2 separate regions of the Homo sapiens genome follow, and region 1 is linked to region 2. The links come from fine-mapping of genetic effects on gene expression. A gene starts in region 2. The other region holds a variant in brackets. All regions are shown on one strand. Distances are from middle to middle. Region 1 has its middle 7.8 kb from the start of PRDM14. Region 2 holds the start of LINC03020 (long intergenic non-protein coding RNA 3020).

The links. PIP is the estimated chance that this variant, and not a neighbour inherited with it, causes the effect.
Region 1: its variant is the best candidate, but not a certain one, in a credible set for the expression of LINC03020 in sigmoid colon (GTEx, PIP 0.73).

What each region holds. Positions count from the first base shown.
Region 1 is chr8:70,076,358-70,081,736 of GRCh38, reverse strand. It overlaps the pseudogene RNU1-101P. Among named protein-coding and RNA genes, the nearest start is that of PRDM14, 7.8 kb to the right of the region's middle. The variant C/G (reference allele first, on the strand shown) is at 2,924.
Region 2 is chr8:70,467,986-70,473,364 of GRCh38, reverse strand. LINC03020 (long intergenic non-protein coding RNA 3020) reads right to left here and starts at 2,231. Exons shown (of 4, transcript NR_110653.1): 1 at 1,520-2,231.

The sequences.
Region 1 (5,379 bases), 390 kb after region 2:
GACCACTTTGAGGAACTTTAAATGTGACCAAAATTATCCATTTTAGGAACATCTTAAAACAAAAGAGCAAAAAAAGGGGGAAGTAGCAAATGTTTAATATTTAATTGTCAGCCTTTTATGACCGATATGAAGAACCTGAGAATCTAGAATAGTGCTTGGAAGCAATGGTCCCAATCTCCCTGATGTACATCACCTAGTACATGTATCTAGATGCTAACCCTACCTTAAAGAGTCCACTGGAAGGACCTGGGAAATAATCTATGTATTCCTGAGGACCAGCAAACAGAAAGGGACTTTTAAGAAGCACAAAATGTAGTGCAATCCTTACTGAAGGCAATACCTACTTTATTTTGAGTAGAGATTCTCTGGTCATTAATCCAGTTTTTTTGTGTTTGTTTTTTATTTTTTTTTTAAAGCAAATTCATTAAAAATTTTAGAAATTGCTGGGCATGATGGCTCACACCTGTAATCCCAGCACTTTGGGAAGCCAAGGCGGGCGGATCACTTGAGGTCAGAAGTTCAAGACCAGCCTGGCCAACATGGTGAAACCCCAACTGTATTCAGGGTGTTGGGTGCCTATTACCCAGCTACTCAGGAGGCTGAGGTGGGAGAATTTCTTGAACCCGGCAGGCGGAGGTTGCAGTGAGGTGAGATTGCACCACTGCACTCCAGCCTGGGTGACAGAGGGAGACTACGTCTCAAAAAAAAGAAAAGGTTTTAGAAATCACCTTCAGACAACAGTCTGGGATAGATCAATAGGCAGATGTTTTGCTACATTATCCTCATTGCTTATGAACGGCCTTTAGCCAAAATTCAGGGGTTTGGTACTTAAAGGCTAGAATAAGAAATAACTCCACTAACAGCCCTATAGCATGTGTCCAAATCTTCTGAGAAACTCTTAGAACAAAAGTAGAGTAAGATCCTAAACAACTTAACGGTTTTTCAAATTAAACAACTGGATGACCTCACAACCTCCACAATCCCCCCCAGCAAAATGCCCAGTGATAAGAATACTTGCTGCTACTCTGAACAAAAGAGACGATGGAAAACCAATTGTCTCACTTTGGGCAAAAAGGAATCTGACAGATAATGAGACAGTTCCAAGAGAGAAGATGGCATCCACTTCTGAGTCTTCCCTTAAAACTTGCAAGAAGATATCATTAACTCTTCTGGGCCACACTCAGGGTTAGGGGTGCAACATTTTCAACAACAACCCTGCCACTAAGTTCACTTCTTGTCCTTGGAGTCAGCAAAAACCAAGAGGTGGATGTCTCCATCTGCCTGGCCACTCCCTGTATCCTGGCCACTGTTATTCTTGGTCTTTTTACTAAAAACACCCTTCTCTTGTGACATCACACCAGCATAAACTTAATGAGGAGTCTTTATTATGAAAATGGAATCACCAGATTAAATTTTCCTAGAAGGGAGCTCTTCCTTGAAACTCATGAGGGTGTCTCTATTCATAATCAAATCATAGCTAATTTGGATACAGATACATAAACCAGACACAATTTGAAGATCTTTGTGAGGTACCAAGTCCTAATGAGCCAAAAATGTATCACCATTTTAGGATTACTGGGGCTGAGCACATCAAGGTTCAGACTGACCAGGTCCCAACCTTCACCCAGCCTTGTACAATTCCCTTGAAGCCAGAAGAAAAAAATTAAGGCCCATAGTAGAAGGACTAATAGGCAAAAGACTCATTATTCCTTGGACCAAACCTTCTCACGCTCCTATCCTGAGTATTAGGTAACTCAACGCATGAGTGCGCAGATTTATTCATGATCTTAGGGATATCGTTAAGATAATTATTCCCCACATTCCAGCAGTGCCAAGTCCAAATACTGGACTTTGTTCTTTCCCCCAGTCCCGCCCAAGGCCATCTATTTCACAGTTGTGCATCTATGTTCTTCCTTCTTTAGAACCTGTTCTCTGTCTTTTTTTCTTTTTTTTTTTTTTTTTCGAGACAGAGTCTCACACTGTCGCCCAGGCTGGAGTGCAGTGGCACGATCCCAGCTCACTGCAACCTCTGCCTCCTGGGTTCAAGCTATTCTCCTGCCTCAGCCTCCCGAGTAGCTGGGACTACAGGTGTGTGCCACCATGCCCAGCTGATTTTTTTTTTTGTATTTTTAATAGAGACGGGGTTTCACAATGTTGGCCAGGATGGTCTGGAGCTCTTGACCTCGTGATCCGCCCACCTCGGCCTCCCAAAGTGCTGGGATTACAGGCGTGAGCCACTGGCGCCCAGCGAACTTGTTCTCTTAAATCAATGCCTGTTCTCCTGTCCTTAGGAGAACCCACAGTACATGTGGATTGTTATGCCTCAGAGATTCACTGTGGTTCCTTACTTTTTATAAGTTCTTAGGCCAGGCGTGGTGATGGCTCACCCCTGTAATCCCAGCACTTTAAGAGGCTGAGGCGGACAAATCTCTTGAGGCCAGGAGTTTGAGACCAGCCTGGGCAACATGGTGAAACCTCGTTTCTACAAAAAATACAAAAAATTAGTTGGGTGTGGTGACACACACCTGTAGTCCCAGCTACTCGGGTGGCTGAGATGGGAGGATTGCTTGAAACTGGGAAGTCAAGGCTGCAGTGAGCTGAGATCACACCACTGTCCTCCAGCCTGGATGATGGAGTGAAACCCTGTCTCAATAAATAAATATAAATAAATAAATAAATAAATAAATAAATAAAATGAAATAAGCTCTTAATCAGAATCTCAAGGACCTTAAAGTTCTTCTATAGGATGAGCTTTTGCTAATCTCTGAAGATTAGAAAAGCACTAAAAATGAATTCTTTCTACCTTCTATTTTTGCACAAAAGGACACAGGTGCTCAAAAAACTTGAAGTTTTTTCAGAAAAAAGGTTCATTATCTAGATCATGATCTGTCTCAGGCAAGTCTCTTCCCTCTGATTGACTGAA[C/G]TTCCACTCAGAACTGCCCTAAACTCACCACTGAAAACTAATTGCTACGTCTCATGAGGGATTGTGGACAGGGAGCTCCCAACTTCTCTGCAATTACTTCTTCTTTAGGACCCGACTAAATTCTTGGTGACAGACTTGCCTCTCCTGGGAACACAGCATGAACAGACATTTTACACGCTAGAGCTAGCTCTTCAACAAACCCCATCCTTGACTGCTCTAACTTACCATAAACATTTCTCCAGGTTCATAGATGATCTGCTCAGGTCCTTGAGGTTTTAACTCAATGACAAGAAAACCACCCATGGGTTCCAGCCTGGCCAACATGGTGAAAACCCGTCTCTACTAAAAATACAAAAATTAGCCGGGTGTGGTGGCAGGTGCCTGTAATCCCAGCTACTCGGGAGACTGAGGCATGAGACTCACTTGAACCCAGGAGGCAGAGGCTGCAGTGAGCTGAGATTGCACCACTGCACTCCAGCCAGCCTGGGTGACAGAGTGAGAATCTGTCCCAAAAAAAGTCCCAAAACCAACAAAACAAAAACAAAAACAAAACCACCCATGGTTTACTGTAATGTCCCTGCTCCCTACTCTACTGGCAAAGGCCTATCTACCTTGTCTCAAGGCAATGGCAGTCATTGTCAACTCGGGGAGGCTTCTGCTTACTTAGTTTTGGGATCTCATGAACCCAATGGTCTCCCAAGTTGTATAATCACTGCTACTTAATCAAATGGACAACATTTCTAGCTGAGCCACCTTGCATCCTATGAAATATTGTTACAATATACTTACCTGACCAGGAAGATTCCATGATCATGAAGGTGGTTTTCCCAGGATGAGGCTTATCCATTGCACTCCAGATGTGCTGACCCTTGAAATTTCCCCAGATACAGGAAACTTGACTGCATTGAAAGGAAAGAAAGAAAGAAAGAAAAGGAAAGGAAAGGAAAGGAGGAAGGAAGGAAGGAGAAAGAAATAAAGAAAGAAAGAAAGAAAGAAAGAAAAAGAAAAGAGAGAGAAAGAAGAGGAAGAGGAAGAAGAAGAAGAAAAAAAGAAAAGAAGAAGGAGAAGAAAGAACAACTAATGCAATAATGCCCGGGTATGGGGGCTCACATCTGTAATCCCAGCACTTTGGGAGGTGCTGGGATTGGATGGATTACTTGAGGTCAGGAGCTCGAGACCAGCCTGGCCAACACGGCAAAACCTTGTCTCTACTGAAAATAAAAAAATTAGCCAGACTTGGTGGTGGACATCTGTAGTCCCAGCTCAGTCCTGGGCTGAGGCTTGAGAATCACTTGAACCTGGGAGTGCGAAGTTGCAGTGAGCTGAGATTGCGCCACTGCACTGCAGCCTGGGCGACAGAAAAAAGAAATATTGTTCTTTTCCCTATACATATGTCTGTCAATCACTGTGGTTATTTGAACTCTGCCATGCTCCTTCCATCTCAAAAGAAAAAATGCCAAACTGGCATTTGTCCAAGCCCCATGCAGATGTAATAGAAATACTTTTGGAGAGTCCATAATTGACCCTGATTGTTGATGGGTCAGATCTGCAGACAGAGGCAGGATATGATCAGTCTGACTTTGCCATAACAGATCTCAAATCACCCCTAGAATATGCATCGTTATAGCCCAGATGGCAGAAGCGATTGCTCTCACTGGAGCCTGCCAGCCAGCTGGAGAGAAGAGAGTTAGCATGCTCAGACAGATTAGTCTTGGGGTCATTTATAAAGTCTGGGTGCTCTGGAAACAATGAGGCTGTCTAACTTCAGTGGGGATTCCTATCAAGGTGGAACTTCAAAATACCTTAATGCTACCCAAGGAATAGGTAGTATCTAGGTCTAGAATGATCTAGATGCTAGGAGAAATGCCCTGTCTGATCACTTACCCTAAACAGGGGGCCCTTACAAAAATACTGGTCCATCGAGATAAGAAAAAAATTCCATGACCTTGGAGGGGTTCAAGGCGGCCATTACAGGATGCTAAAATTGGGCCTCCATATCAAAGAAAAAGTACTGAGGCAGATTTGGAGGTAAATACATGAAGATACTCTCTGGTGTTCCCAGGATGGTTTCTTGGAAGCACCAGAGTTTCTCCAGTGGAGAGGGCCTTGCTGAGGTCCCAGGTGGGACCACCCGCCAACACAGGGACACACTGGCTGCCATTGCAGACAACACTGTCCCTACCAGGCACGCCTCACTGGCTGTCAGTATATACTCTTGGCGAAAGCAAGCCATTAAGATGGGCATGGGCAGGAACCAAACTTCAAGGCCCATTTGAACTCCTCTAAATGGGTTTCCAATAATTACCCCTGTGGTGGGACATAAATATGGTTGCTGTTTGCTTTCTTCGGGGTGCCTCAAAGCTTCTCCCCTATCAAAGAGCTAAGCCTCTTGAAATATATAGTGAAGAGCATGTGCTATAAAATTCCATTTACAGGAAGTCAGAACAGGCAAAACC
Region 2 (5,379 bases):
AAACACACGTGAGGTACAGAAACAGCCTGATTGGTTACAGCTGGGTGTTGAACACATTCGATCAGTTGGCTACCTGTGATTGGCCAAAACTGGATGATTGGCACAAGAGTAGGTTACAGTCTGTTTACACCTCCAGTCAGGTTACAGTTCACTGTGTATGGAGAAACATTTAGACCAAACTTAAAATATGTAAGGAGGCAGCTTTAGGCAAAACTTAATTTAACAATTGCCCCCTTTTGGTCAACCTCTCAGTTTTGATTGGCCAAAACTTTAGACATTGATGTCACTCTGTCACCATTGTCAGTGTACTTATTTGGTCTCAAATCTCAGTGGGAAATAGCAAAACAGTGAGTTTTTAAATGTGAGAACCAGGACTTCAGGTTTGTTTTTTTTTTGTTTTGTTTTGTTTTTTTTGGTAAGGGTTAGAACAGAAGGGACCTCTTTATGCTGGAATCTCCTGTTTTCAGGTGAGAAAAAAAAACTGGTCTGTTTTTGTTGTAACCAAGAAAATGCTGAATCAGGAAAGTAGTAATCTAAAAATGGCAGCAAAGCTTTGCAGCTTCCTTAGTTTCATTTTGATTATGTCTCATTTAGCATGAGTGACTCCATTTTGATTTGGTCTGGTCTGTTGGGGCCTAGTGCAGAAAGAGGTCTGATCTGATTTGGCCTAGGTCCAAAACAATGGCCTCTCATAATTTTAACAGCAAGATGAAAAGAATTACAGAAGTGGGTGGCGGTGCTGGTTGCACAACATTTTAAGTGTATTTAATACCTCTGAACTGTATACTTAAAAGTGATTAGGATGGTAAATTTTATGTTATGTGTATTTTACCACAATTTAAAAAGTAAACCCAGTAGCAGCGGCTCCTGCCTATAATCCCAGCAACTTCAGGCGCTGAGACAGGAGAATTACTTGAGCCCAGAAGTTCGAGATTGCAGTGAGCTATGATCACACCACTGTACTCCAGCCTGGGTGACAGAGCCAGACCCCAGTTCACAAAAAATAAATAATTAAAAATTAAAAAAAAAAAAGAGGTGCCATTACCTCTAACTGTGGCGTCTCTTGAGCGTGATTTTGAGAGGAAGCCAGTGAGACCAAGAACCCACCAATTCCGGACACAATTTCAGGCCTCACTCTAGCCAGAGTTGCCGGGCTCTTGGGTATGGGCAGGTCCTGTTTTTCCTGCTTCTGCAGCACCAGGGCAATCTACTTGATATGGGAAAAGCTCCCTTGTCCCCCTCGCAGGGTGTGTGATGAGGTGTGGCTCGATTCTTCAGTGCCCTGCTGCTCAGACCTCTAGGGGAGCATACAGGCGGGCAGGCTGTGGGGCTCCGATCGCACAGCAGTGTCTAGGGGTGAATATTTACAGCTCCTGAAGCCCCAGTGGGCGGGCGTGTGTTACAGGATGCTCTTTTAGGTTGCCATCTATAGGCGGTTTGTGTTAGCTCAATTACACCCCCTTTCTTATCACAAGGACAGAAGGATTTCTGTATCCTGGGGTTTCTTGCCCTGGCTTACCTGAAGAATCGGATTACACGTGGGCTTGGAGAATGAGTGCAAGGTTTTATTGAGTAGAAGTAGCTCTCAGCAGATGGGGGAGCCAGAAGGGAGATGGTTTTCCCCTGGAGTCGGGCCCCTTGGCGGCCCAGGCTCTTCTCTGACTGCCCCGTCAAACTCCGCATCATTCTGCTGGTGCATGGCCTGCCGGTGGTGTGTCGGTGCCTGTCGTTGTGTGCTCTTCTGCTGGCATGCTCCTCTCAACGTCCTCTCGAGGACCAGCCACTTGCGTCTTCTTCTGCTAATGTGCTCCTCTCCATGTCTGGCTGGCTGTGTGTCTGCCCACTAGGGTCTTGGGAGGTTTTGTTTTGTTGTTGTTGTTGTTGTTGTTGTTGTTTTTGAAGGAGTCTCTGTCGCCAGGCTAGAGTGCAGTGGCGCAATCTCTGCTTACCGCAACCTCCACCTCCCGGATTGAAGCGATTCTCCTACCTCAGCCTCCCGAGCAGCTGGGACTACAGGCGCGCACGCCATCACGCCCAGCTAATTTTTGTATTTTCAGTAGAGTCAGGGTTTCGCCATGTTAGCAAGGCTGGTCTCGACTTCTTGACCTCGTGATCTGCCCGCCTCGGCCTCCCAAAGTGCTGGGATTACAGGCATGAGCCACCGTGCCCGCAGTCTTGGGTTTTCGTAGGTTCAGGATCGGCGTATGGCGGGCCAGGGAGGTCTTAGAAAATGCAACATTTGAGCGGGAAAGCAGGAATGGGGTTCGTCGGGGAGGAGCCTTAGCCAGGGACCCGCCTTTCTCTACCCAGCACTTCCCTTCCTCCATTCCGCATCATTTAAAGGGACCACGCTTTTCCCTTCCCAGCACTCCATATCATACTGACCTCACTCCTCCAGTCCTGTGAGCAGGACCCAACAAATAAGTAGTATGAGAAATAAAGCTTAGCATCTCTATTTGAAAACACAGGAAAAATTGGGGGCAAAAGTTGTGTTCCATATTGGAATTTATTTGAATTGTCACATCCAGTGTCACTTCTCTTTTGATATATGTCAAGAGCAATAACTATGAAATATTACATATAATTGTTTCCATTCTAAGCAATTGAACCAATGTTCAGCTAATAGCATTAGTGAAAGAGAACACTGCCTGAGCAATGTAAAATAGCGGCTGATATAAACATTACTAGTATTTGGCTTTGAAATATGCTTCTTATAAAGACTTAGATTTACACATGGCAGATTTGATCTCAAAAATTCCAGCAAGACTAGGTGCCATGGTGGCTCATGCCTGTTATCCCGGTGCTTTAGGAGGCTGAAGTAGGAAGATCACTTGAGGTCAGGAGTTCAAGACCAGCCCTGGTAACGTAGCAAGACCCCATCTCTACCAAAAAAATTCAAACAAAATAAAATAGAAGCGTAACTCAAGAGAATTGGGAGGCGGTCTTGCCTCGTTATCCTGGCGTTTACTTCCCACCCCTCTGCCTACTGGCTGCTGGCTGGCAAAGATTGCTAGTGCTCCTAATGGATGCAACTCACAAGGTCAAACTTTTGCCTCCCAATCTTTCCTGACTCAGAGACTTTCATTTTGTGTTTTGTTTGGGATTGATTTAAAGTGCTTCTCTCGCTAATGTGTAAGTTTCATGTAAAAATCAGTGTAAAAATAGAAAACTGAAAGGTCAAATTAAGTATTGTGAATAATGCAAGTGCTGTTAAAATTAAAAGCAAGATTTGCTGGAAGTGATGTGCCCTAGATTGATAGTAGATGGAATCTATTTGTATACCTCGCAGATTATTATGTGTGAGTGTATTGTTCATTTGTCGACCATCATAGACTGGCTTCCTTCTTCTACTTAACCTGTTTTCATTTAGTTTCTTTTTTTTGAGACGGAGTCCCTCTGTCGCCCAGGCTGGAGTGCAGTGGCATGATCTTAGCTCACTGCAACCTCCACCTCCTGGGTTCAAGCGATTCTCCTGCCTCAGCCTCCCGAATAGCTGGGACTACAGGCACGTGGCACCACGCCCGGCTAATTTTTTGTATTTTTAGTAGAGATGGGGTTTCACCGTGTTAGCCAATATGGTCTCGATCTCCTGATCTCGTGATCCGCCCACCTCGGCCTCCCAAAGCGCTGGGATTACAGGGGCGTACCACCACACCTGGCTAATTTTTTGTATTTTTAGTAGAGATGGGGTTTCACCATGTTAGCCAGGATGGTCTCGATCTCTTGACCTTGTGATCCGCCCACCTCGGCCTCCCAAAGTGCTTGGATTACAGGCGTGAGCCACTGTGCTCCACCTATTTAGTTTCCTTATGGCAGGTCTTGGTGGTATTATGGAGCCAGACAGACCAGACTTCAAACCCCAGTAGCAATGCCACTTACAAGCTGCGGGAGCTTAGGAACTTGGCTTATTGTCAGTTTTGACCCTTACTTGTGCCACCTCAAAATGGCATTAATCACACCTCCTTGATAAAACTGTTACAGGATTAGTGATTCCATGTGTATTAATAAGAGCACATTATCTGTTCCATCTTCTTTTATCAATTTTGCAATAACTAATACAGCAACATAAATATTGTGATTATTTTCTTTGGCAGTAAGTTTTGTACTGATAAAGTTAAATAGAATTATTTTATTGGATTTGGGGAGTAAAGAAAAGCTTTTAAAGGGAGAGATTTTAAAAAAACAGCTTTTAAACTAAGCACAAGTAGTTATTTAAGTCTTGCATAGTTATTTCCTCCATTTTGAGTATGATTCATCCTTCTTGCTTAATCATGTGTGGGTTTGAATTTCTTTCTGGAGTAGCTTCTTTATATAGACTACTTTAATAATACTGCTTGTTGTAAACCTACAGGATGCATTTACCTCTGGGAAGTTATTTAGGTCGCAGCTACACATTCAAAACGCTTCGATAATGGTGACCAAACTGATGCTGAATCATCATCAGTTGAGTGAATTTCTTGTGCCTGCAGTACCGTCCCTCATCCTTTAAGACTGGGTCTTGTGTCCACTTCTCTATGAAGCTTTCCTTCGTTCTCTAGAACCTTCTCTGAAAGGTCCAATCCAGTCAATGATTGCTCAGCCCTCAATTCCTATAATATATATTTCAACCCATCAATGTAGCTCTTAACTATATACTTTCACGTTAGTCTCCATTTTAGGTGGTTTCTGCTTTATTTATTTATTTAATTATTTATTTTTATTTTTTTAGACAGAGTCTTGCTCTTGTTGCCCAGGCTGGAGTGCAATGGCACAATCTCAGCTCACTGCAACCTCCACCTCCTGGGTTCAAGTGATTCTCCTGCCTCCGCCTCCTGAGTAGCTGGGATTATGGGCGCCTGCCATCATGCCTGGCTAATTTCTGTATTTTTAGTAGAGACGGGGTTTCACCATGTTGATCAGGCTGGTCTCGAACTCTTGACCTCGTGATCTGCCCGCCTTGGCCTCCCAAAGTGCTGGGATTACAGGCATGAGCCACCGCGCCCGGCCGGGTTTTTTTTGTTTGTTTGTTTTTTGTTTTTTTTTTTAGCTTTGAATAGATTATAAACTTCTCCAGAGCAGATACCATGAATGAGAGAGGTGAGAGTGTGATCCCGATGTAGGGCTATTGTGTTTTTGCTTTTTCTTAGTGCCTCCCACATAATTTGACACATGAAGAGAATTCAACATATTTCTTATGTGACTAACCACAAGCATTCATAAAAGGGAAGTTTTTGTGAAGTGGCTAGGCCTTTCTGGTCAACTCTGGTCTTTTAAATTTTTCGGTAATGTGGGAGGTAAATACTTTTAAGAACACAGGAAATTACCACGACACAGAATATTTGGTGATTTGTGAGGTGAATCAAGATGGAAAAGAAAACTTATCCTAATAACACAGACAGT